Linked DNA regions of Homo sapiens: region 2 is linked to region 1. The links come from fine-mapping of genetic effects on gene expression. A gene starts in region 1. The other region holds a variant in brackets. All regions are shown on one strand. Distances are between the middles of the regions. Region 1 holds the start of PSME4 (proteasome activator subunit 4). Region 2 overlaps SPTBN1 (spectrin beta, non-erythrocytic 1).

Region 1 (5,379 bases):
GCACAACTATGAACAGGTCACCTTAACATGACTTAGGAAAAAAACACACCCAAGATCACAACATGTCCCACCGCATTCAAAATGTCTCATAGTGCAATATCAAGAATCAGTTTCCAGCATCTAACCACTATTCCAAAATAAAATTCTACCCAGTAGCATTTCTTGCTGGTTATTTAGCTATAAATGGTTATGGGTTCATGGGTATTAAGCCATCAGCTATCTGCAATCCAGCCCTAAACACCAAACATTAGCTCCATTGTTATTTTTAGCCCTTTCTAGGTACAAACTTTTATCTAATAAGCCAAAACAATAACAAAACTCGGAGTGCTAATTTACCAAACTTGTTAACAATAAATACTTTAGAAAACAATGCTTAACTATGCCTTGGTAGATTCTAGGTTTATAAATCCAAAGCAGATATGCCTTCACACCATGGCATATTTATATAATGTACACTAAAAAAAGCTGTTTGCGTCCCCAAAAATGGTAGGTATTCTCTGGCAAGTCTAATCCAAGTGATTAAAATGGGGAATTACTGTAACAAAGTGACTATTTTTACTGTGCCTGAGCAACACAAAAACCTAGGAGTCTCACTTGAAAAAGCATTTGGATTTTAACTATTTATAAAATATTCTTTTTTGACTAAACGTGGTTCTCCCTGTTGCATTCCTGCTTCTGCCGCCCCTCACCTCCATTCTCCTAAGGATCCTAACACGAAAAACTTCATTATACTCTAGTCAAGGGGAGAGCTGTTAACCTTGACATTTTATGATCACTCTCTGAAGAGGGCAAATTACATGTTTTAGTTTTGCTTCTTTTTAATTAAAAAGGTCCCACCCACCCCTCAAGTGGAAATGAGAAATTTGTCAGAGGCCCCTTAATAATTGGCAGATGAGAATCATCCAGTGAATATACACAAAACTATTACAAAACCCTGAGTCATCACTCAGTTCAATCAGCAGCTTTGGGTAAACACTGAATGAGTGAGTTATGTCTTGTGTGTTCACCCGTCCATACCCACATGCGTGAACATACCATGTTACTAGATTTTATGTACAGTTAACCAAACAAGATACAGCAAAATTCTTTCTTAAAAAGCTCTTCGGACACAGTAAAGATGCCCATCCAGCAAGTAAATGTAACCTTTTTTCCCCCACTGTATTTTCACTCGTTTTTTTTTTTTTTTTCCTAATTTCAGTGACACTATAGTTTGAAGCTAGTTTACAAACAGAACTCCTGAAACTGATTTAGGTAATCTCTTAATCTGAGTAACTCAAAAAATTAACACAAGCCTGATACTAATATCGCCCTGGACATCCTGACAGTGCTCTTCCCTACTTTCCTCAGTATCTTAAATGTCTCTCCAAAAGAAATGTCACAACAGGAGCAACACACAATCCAAAACAACACTGTCCACATAAGACGTTAAGCTCAAGAATGAGGTCTGACTTTAAACGACCCTTTTCGATCAACTCCGCCAGGTCTGAGAGGGCCCCCAAAAAGCAAAACCCTTAAGTTTCCCTATGGTCTTCTCTCCATTCAGAAAGTTACTAGACGCCAACGGAGATGCGAAGAGGCGGGGATCGTAGGGGAAGGAAGAACCGGAGGAAGCAAGGAGACAAGTCAAGGAACTCCCCCAAAGACAAATTCTCTTTGCCCCGCCTCTCCCATGCGCAAAAGTCCACGGAGGACCCTTGAGAAAGGCTCACCTCTCTCCCTCGGGGCCGGGGCCCTTGGGCTACCCAGGGCCCCCCAGGTGGGAAGACAACAACCCGAACACTTCGGGAGAAGCAGATGCGGAGGACGTAGAGGGATGGTAAAGACCCGGGAAGTCCCGTAGGAAAGTGGCAGGGAGGACGGCTTGAGTACTTCACAGGCTCTGTCACGACCCTGGGATCACCGCTCGGGGACAGCTCCAGCGAGGACAGAGCTAAGGGTCCAGCCCTCTGGACAAAGAGCAACCATCCCCGACACCTCTCACTGAGCCTTTCCCCCCGGCCCGGCCCGCAGGCCCGGGCACACTTACGTGGAGAGTTTCCTGGTCCAGAAGAGGCCCCCGGGCCACAGCTCTTGGAGCTGCACGGCCCGGCCCAGGTTGCATTTGATCTGGGCCAGCTGCAAGTCGGACTCGGCGTCTAGCCGCTCCGCGTAGGGCAGCAGCTTGTTGTAGACGATCTCCTTCTGCGGGACGAAGCCCCGCGGGCCCGGCTCGGGACGCCCGCCCGGCTCCGGGGGCTCTCCGACTCCCGCCCGCTCGGCCGGCTCCATGAGCCCAGGGACACCCCCCCCACCCCCTCCCACCCGAACCCTCCCCGGCCCCCACCCCTCTCCGGGCTCCGCCTCCTCCGCGTCTTCGTCGCCCTGCGGCCGCTGGCGGCCCGTCGCCCTCGGACCGATCGCTAGGCCCCCTTCCCTGGCCGGCGTGCTGCTGGGCCCCACGCGGCTCTCAGTTCGTTGGCGGCGGCAGCGGCCGCTCTGCCCGCCCCGCACCGGCTCTGCTGGTGACGCTGCAGCCGCCGGGCCCAGAGGTTCCGGACCGGCCTCAAGTCACTTCCGGGGCGGGGCGGGGCGGAGCGACGGCGTCGGGGGAGGCGGTGGTGGCGGCAGCTGGAGCCCAACGGGCTGCGCCTTCTTCGCCGTGGGCCCGGCTCGGAGCCCCCACCCCAGGCCTCACCGGCCCAGCGCGAGGCTGCCTCACCGGAAACACGAGGCCGAATTCCAAGCTATTGTCCTGCTTCGCCGGGGGTCGCGCACTCCAAGCGGCAGCCCACTGGAGTCCCAGTCGCCACGACAGGCGGCAGCCAGGTCGGCCTGGTCCCCCTAGCCGAGCAGCCCCGGCTTCTGGGTTAGAGGGGTTTATGGAAAAGCCTACGTACCCACTTGCTCCTTATAGATTTATTTACTCCATCCCGCTTGTTCCTTATAGATTTAATTTTTCTGTCCCCTTTAAGTCCCCATCTTTCTGGTATTCTGGCCGCCATCATTCCAAAGAAGAAAATAGTTACTCGCTGAACAAATGCTATTTGAACAGCTGTTTTGTGTGTAAGGCGCTCAGTTTAGGCTATTGAGATAGAAAGTTTAACCTGGTTTCCGCCCTCCCAAGGACTTAGTCTAGCAGAGATAAAGACGTGAATTACAAGATAATGCTCTTAATTGCTAGATAAGTACAAGAATCCTTAGGAACTCTACAAAGAAGTTGAAACTAGGGGGTTTGAGAGGGTGTCATTTTCCTAGAAGTGATACTTAATTTAAGCTATGAAGGTTGAGTGCAAAGTTGGTTAGAAAAAGGAGGGAGGAGGACACGTATTTCAGCTGAGAGAACAGCTTTGACGCTGCAAGCATGTATTCTAAAAATTCAAAGTTCAAAATAGCGTAAGAGAGGGGACGGAGAAATGAGACTGAGAAGGCAATCCTAAGGAATTCAGAGCTTTATCCTAGAGACAAACTTCCAAAAGATTTTAAGCATAGCAGTGGGATGATATAATTTACATTTTTTAAGAATTACTCTGGCGGCCGGGCGCAGTGGCTCACGCCTGTAATCCCAGCACTTTGGGAGGCCGAGGCGGGCGGATCACGAGGTCAGGAGTTCGAGACCAGTCTGGCCAACATGGTGAAACCCCGTCTCTACTAAAAATACAAAAAAGTTAGCCGGGCGTGGTGGCGGACGCCTGTAATCCCAGCTACTCGGGAGGCTGAGGCAGGAGAATCGCTTGAAACCGGAAGGCGGAGGTTGCAGTGAGCCAAGATCGCGCCAGGGCACTCCAGCCTGGGCAACAAGAGCGAAACTCCGTCTCAAAAAATAAAAGGGCCAGGCGCGTGGTGGCTCACGCCTGTAATCCCAGCACTTTGGGAGGCCGAGGCGGGTGGATCACGGGGTCAGGAGATGGAGACCATCCTGGCTAACATGGTGAAACCCCGTCTCTACTAAAAATACAAAAAAATTAGCCGGGCATGGTGGCGGGCGCCTGTAGTCCCAGCTACTCGGGAGGCTGAGGCAGGAGAATGGCGTGAATCCGGGAGATGGAGCTTGCAGTGAGCCGAGATCGTGCCACAGCACTCCAGCCTGGGTGGCAGAGCGAGACTCCGTCTCAAAAAAAAAAAAGAGTCACTCTGGCTTCGTCTGGAAAATGGGTTGGAACTGACAAGATTGGGAACTGGAGGACCCTTTAAGGTGTGACATAATCATGGCCTGGATGTCAGTTGAAATTGAGAGCTACTTCAGCAGAATGGCTTGGGCTTAGTAGTTGACTGAAAGTGAAAAATTAAAAAGGAAAGAGACAAGACGACGCTGGGTAGATAGGTGAAGTCCTTCACTGAGATAAAGAACACAGCAGAAACAGCTTGGGAGGCAGAATGCCTATGGGATGGGTATGTTGACATATGTATCAGGAGGGTGATCTAAACTGAGATGCAGATTAGCGTGTAGATGGACGACAGGAGGGAAGGAAATATACAGTATGAAAAAATAGGGCCCTTCACAAATCTCTGAGGAGCCCCACATTTAAGGACAGACAGAGAAAAGGAAGGTAGGCCACAAAGAATATTCACAAAAAGCAGAGAGAGGAGGAGTTCTAGGAAACTGGGTGTCTCATGGAGAAGCGAACAATCCTACCTTAGGTAGCTAACAGGTCAAATGAAGTGAAACCTGAAAGGGTTTATTGGATAGTTTATTGATAAAGCGCATAAGAACAGTGTCGTTGGAGTGTAGAATAGAAATCTGATTATGGTGACAAAGGACAAATGGGAAGTGAATAAATAGAGGCAGCAAATATGGACAACCTTTTAAAAAATAATGGGGTAGGGAGAGCCGGAAAGAGATGAGTGTCAGGCCTCTGAGCCCAAGCTAAGCCATCATATCCCCAGTGACCTGCATGTATACATCCAGATGGCCTGAAGCAACTGAAGATCCACAAAAAAAGTGAAAATAGCCTTAACTGATAACATTTCACCATTGTGATTTGTTTCTGCCCCACCCTAACAGATGAATGTACTTTGTAATCTCCCCCACCCTTAGGAAGTTTCTTTATAATCTCCCCAACCCTTAAGAAGGTTCTTTGTATTTCTCCCCACCCTTGAGAATGTACTTTGTGAGATCCACCCCCTGCCCCCAAAACATTGCACTTAACTCCACCACCTATTCCAAAACCTATAAGAACTAATGGTAATCCCAACACCCTTTGCTGACTCCTTTTTCAGACTCAGCCTGCCTGCACCCAGGTGAAATAAACAGCCATGTTGCTCACACAAAGCCTGTTTGGTGGTCTCTTCCCACGGACGCGCGAGACAATGAGGAGGTACTTGGAATAAAAGGAGGGATTTTTGAATGTGGGATATATATATGTGTGTGTGTGTGTGTGTGTGTGTGTGTGTGTGTGTGTG
Region 2 (5,379 bases), 520 kb after region 1:
AGCAAAGATGGGCTTGGGCTTCAGTCTGGTCAATAGGCATCTTATTCAGGTAGATGCCAGATGGGAGGGATGGGGACAGCTTAGTGAAGAAGGATGAGGCTGGAGGTGACTCTTGAAAAATGATTAGTGTTAGTTGGAAAGATTAAGGTGTGGGAGAGTCCCACGCAGGGGAACAGCAGGCAGAAAGCCAGGGAGAGAGAAAACAGTGTGTTTTGAGGACCTCTTCTGCTGTGGCTGGAATAAAGAGGGCTGTGTTGAAGAGTGAAGGGAGCTGAGGCCAGGCAAAAACTCTTGCATGCCTTGAGAGGAGGTTTTACCCAAAAGACAAGTGAGGAGGGTGGTGAAACATTTTAGTCAAGCTTGTGTGTTCTTCAAAGCTCGTTTGAGCTCTGGCATGGAAGAGGATGGATTTCAGTTGGGCAAAATTCAGAGCAGGGAAACCAGTCAGGAAGTTGTGGCAATAATTTGGTTAAGAAACTCTAAGGGACCTTACTAAGGTCAAGGTTAGACTTTGTAAATTTTGGGGTCCAGAAAAACTGTTAATAAACTTAACCGACAGGAAGATTCCCCTGGCATCATAGCCTGTCACTGTGAGGATTTACCTTCTTTTTCACATAGTAATAGATTGTGAAAAGTCTCCAAAACCATACTCAAGGATTGAAGGTCACATTTTCTCTTTCGACCATTCTACACTTAGGTAGAAAAAAATTTCATTACCAACTAGATAATAGGATTTGAGCTGTTGTGGTTGACATTCTTGATGAAGGACTGATCAGAAATTCTTGGTCATCTTATGTAAGAATAACTTCTTGGAGTAAATATGTTCCTGAAGAGCTGCCATTTAAAGTAAACTTTTGAATATCATATCTTAAATGCTTTGTAATCATAAACATTTAAATTCTGTGGTTCAAGTAATCATTTTTAAGTAATTTACTTCTAATTTCTCTCTCTTTTTTTTTTGGAGACAAGGCTGTCACCCAGGCTGGAGTGCAGTGGTGCAAACACACTTCACTGCAGTCTCAACCTCCTTGGCTCAAGCAGTCCTTCTGCCTCAGCCTCTTGGTGTGGCTGGGACCACAGATGCATGCTGCCATACCTAGCTAACTTTTCTTTTCTTTTTATTTTTTGGTAGAGACGAGGTCTCGCCGTGTTGCCCAGGCTGGTCTTGAACTTCTAGGCTCAGGCAGTCCTCCACCTTGCCTCCCAAAGTGCTGGGATTACAGTCATGAGCCACTGCACCCAGTTTGTTTCTCTCTTTTTTAAATCCAAATTTTTCTATTAGGCTTTGCAAATAGGCCCTTAAAGAAATAGGCAGCATGGCTGGTAAACAAATTTTGTTCTTTAGATGTTTCCAGAGAAATAATGTGGTATTTTAAGAGCTTTTAACAAGAGACCTCAAGATAATTATTTTTAGGATATACCATAATTTAAAAAATAACTTCTGAATATGAGAGTAATACATTAAAGAATATTCCTGTAATCCTAGAGCTAAGCCATGCTATAATTCTGGTCCAGTTTACGGTTTGCGCTCACATATACACTCACATTTTTATACCCTTTGTTTTTATGGGTTGTATTCATGCTAAAAAATTGTTTTGAAAACACTTTTTATGGCTGTATAAAGTAGGTGTACCCTATTTCTAAAGTAGGTGTGCCCTATTACTGGACATTTAGTTTGTCTGCAGTTGTTTTTTTGTTTTTTTTTTTTTTTGCTACTATAGAAAAGCACAGTGATGAGCATCACTGCATTCATATTTTTATCTGAAGTTGCCTTTTCCCCTAGATCCCTGAAAGTGGATTTGCTGGGTCTGAGGAGTTTTACTTAACACCTTTTTCAAAGGCTGTGTCATTCCTGTGACCTCACTGCAGGTGGTGGACCTACTGCCCTTTGCACCAACTGACTGACTGCTGTGGTAGATGCCTTCGAACTTAGGCAAGCTAGTAACATTTTATATGGGGTTTGGTTTTTACTGAAAAGGTTTGCTTCTGGAACATTTATGTAAGTTACAGCAGTCTTCATGCTGAGGACACATGGACACGTCTCTTATGTCTCAAGCAAAGATACCCCCAGCCTGATGTAGAAATGTAATTGACTACTGAGTGGATTTCCTTTCATGTGGAATAGAATGAGATTTATTGGCTTGTATAAACTAGAGCAGAAAAGTTAATAGAAATAATAAAAGCTATCAG[ACT/A]CTGTTTAGCTCTGTTATGCTATTACACTCAGATCCTTTAAAAACTGTGTTTAGAAAATTGTTGTGCAGTTTAATATGTCTGCAGAATATTGAATACAGTGTCCATCAGAAAATCTAATCCTTTTTTAAAGTTTAGATAGAACTAAATAACATATCTTTTTTTTTTTTTTTTTTTTTTGAGACAGGGTCTCACTCTATTGCCCAGACTGAAGTGCAGTGGCACAATCAGAGCTCACTGCAACCTCCGCTTCCTGGGTTCAAGGGATTCTCCCACCTCAGCCTGCTGCGTATCTGGGACCACAGGCACACACCACCATGCCTGGCTGATTTTTGCATGTTTTGTAGAGATGGGGTTTCGCCATGTTGCCCAGGCTGGTCTCAAACTCCTGGGCTTCAGTAATCCTCCCACCTCAGCCTCCCAAAGTGTTGGAATTACAGGCATGAACCACCGCACCCGGCCTAAGGAGCATATCTTGATGTTTCTAGTTTTCTTATAATTTCCTTCTGTGTTCTGGGTTGCTCTTACATATATATTCTATAAATTGTGTGTTTTGTGTTTTCTTTTTTGGGGGGTTGGGGGAGACAGTCTAACTCTTGTCACGCAGACTGGAGTGCAGTGGCGTGATCTCAGCTCACTGCAACCTCCCCCTCCCAGATTCAAGTGATTCTTGTGCCTCAGCAGAGTAACTGGGACTACAGGTGTGTATCACCACGCCTGGCTAATTTTTGTATTTTTAGTAGAGACAAGGTTTTGACATGTTGGCCCGGCTAGTCTTGAACTCCTTGCCTCAAGTTATCCACCTGCCTTGGCCTCCCAAAGTGTTGGGATTACAGGCATGAGCCACCACACCTGGCCTTATTTTTATGTGTTCTGAATTTAGGTTAAAATTGAAGAAGAGGGTCCAAGACTAAGTGCCAACATAGATATTTGCAGGTGAAATTGCTTTTCTTTGTGTAGCCCATGTTGTATTACTTAATAGCCTCTTAAACTGGAGACCCCTGATACCTTACATTCAAATGTGAGTGATGATAGGGTGTCTATCAAAGACAACAGAAGTTAATATAACTTCCCCAAAGTCACGTGAGTGGGTTACTCTCTTTACTTGGAACACATGCAAAGAAAGGGTCCTCCTTCAACACTTGAAGATAATCACAGTGTCATGCTCTTTCTCATAAATGCCACTGTAGAGAGTACAGAGAAAAATGCAATTAATGGTGCTACCCAAATCCTGAAAAGAATGAGGTACGGTGTAGGAATTGGACAGCAGACAGAGTGCAAGTTTTTACATAATTGTAATTAATACAGACATGACTTACTTGAGAAATTTAAAATGTGAATATTTTAAAAATTACAGAGGATGATTATTCACATTATAAAGTGACTCATCATCCCTTTTAAAAAGGACTTATCTTTTAAGAGGATATTCCTCTGGTGCATTTGAGTCCTTGTCTGCTCATTGTTTTAAACAACTTGCAGTTTTTTTAACAAATTACAGTATGACCTGTGATATTACCCAGACATTCAATTCCGAGGTATTTAACTAGAGATACCTAGGAATGAAATGAAAACACATATTCGTACAAAAAAAATACACAAATGTTTATAGCAGCTTTATTTGTAGTAACCCCAAACTGGAAACAACCTACATGTCCATCATGGGTGAATGGATAAACAAACTGTTGTAGCCATTTAATGGTATACTATTCAGCAGTAAAAACAAACTATTGGTATATGTAGCAACATCAGTGAATCTGAGAATAATTATACTGGGTAAGCAGCCAGACAAAAAAAGAGTTCTAACTGTATGATTCCATTTATATAGAAATTACAAACTAATCTCTAGCGACAGAAAGCAGATCCATGGTCGTCTGGAGGTGGAGAATAAGGGTAAGTGAGGATGGGCCAGGAGGCATGGACTCCAAAGAGGCATGGGAAACTTAGGAGTGATGGGTATGCTCATTTTGTTGATGGCAATGATGGTTTCACAGGTATATACATAGGTCAAAACTTGCCAAATTGTGTAATATGCACATTGTATATCAGTTATACCTGAATAAAGCTGTTTTTTTTTAAAAAAAAAAAAATGTCCTGAAAAAAGTTCTGTCTTCCCTTGTCTGCCAATTGCACCGTTCTTTATATCTCATCCAGCCTGCTCACAGTCAAGAACAGGGGCAGAAGTGGGCTGACAGGTGTAGTGCAGTGTGTGGAATGCTGTGACAGGTGTGGGCACAGAAGGTACAATGAAGACCCCCTGGAGGAGGTGAGCTTGAGGCGAGTGTAGAGAGGGCATCTCAGAGGCAATTCTGAGAATCATAGGAGGTTGCAGGTGTGTGGCAGAGGTTGGTCTGGAGGACAGCAGGGACCATACATTTGGAGCATTGTTTTGAAAGCGTTGTACATCACTGACGGGTGGTAAGCAGGGGACAGACAAAATCAACTCGGCTTTGCCCACTCTGGGAAGATGAAGAGGCAGGAATCCCAGGTTCAGAGCTCAAGGAACCCTTATGTGATGCCACCCCCTCAAATCTGTTTAAATCATATTAGGAGAACCTTGTTGTCCAAGAGGGCTCTGTCTTGCTAGACAGTTCTGCGTTGTCCAGGAAACTGCAGACTACATTGGAATCCTACCTGTACAAATACTTAAGATGTTTCATTTCAAAAATAAAGTGTTCTCTGTAGAAATTAAGGAAAATACACTTAAGAAAAATAAGAAAATTTAAATTGCCTTTAATCCCACCACCCAGTGCTAAATACTTTTAACATTTTGGTGTATATTGTTTCAGATATATGTATGTTTTAAAACAAAATTAGAATCATAATTTGCATGTGTTTTTACCTTTATTTCCTCTGAGCATTATTCCATGTTTTATGTAGACATAAAATATCATTGTTTTTATTTGATGCATGAGAGTCTACATATTATATGTATGGTGATTTATTTAACCAATAACCTCTTTTGGGGATTTTTTTGGTTGTATAATTTTGTTTAAAAATTCTGGGAAAACCATAATTACTTTATTAAAAAGCAAGTAAATCAAAGAATATAGTTAATTTTTTTATTAACAGGTGCAGTTTCTTAATTCATATTAAAGAAAAATAGCCTTGGTCTAGTAGACATTTTAACTAAATGAAGGGAGGATGGTCCCCTTCTAGAAGTACACATGGGCTTATACAGTAGTTCTTTGT

Evidence for each region.
Region 2: its variant is fine-mapped to the expression of PSME4 in lung (GTEx, PIP 0.97).

Annotation. Positions count from the first base shown.
Region 1 is chr2:53,968,517-53,973,895 of GRCh38, forward strand. It overlaps PSME4 (proteasome activator subunit 4), which reads right to left and starts at 2,477. Exons shown (of 47, transcript NM_014614.3): 1 at 2,027-2,477. The coding sequence starts at 2,268. It also overlaps a transcript of ACYP2 not described here. RefSeq lists enhancers at 1,325-2,089, 2,356-2,650, 2,946-2,995 and silencers at 2,146-2,345, 2,320-2,481, 2,356-2,745.
Region 2 is chr2:54,490,654-54,496,032 of GRCh38, forward strand. All of the region lies in intron 1 of SPTBN1 (spectrin beta, non-erythrocytic 1), which reads left to right. It also overlaps the pseudogene C9orf85P1. Among named protein-coding and RNA genes, the nearest start is that of SPTBN1, 37 kb to the left of the region's middle. The variant ACT/A (reference allele first, on the strand shown) is at 2,191.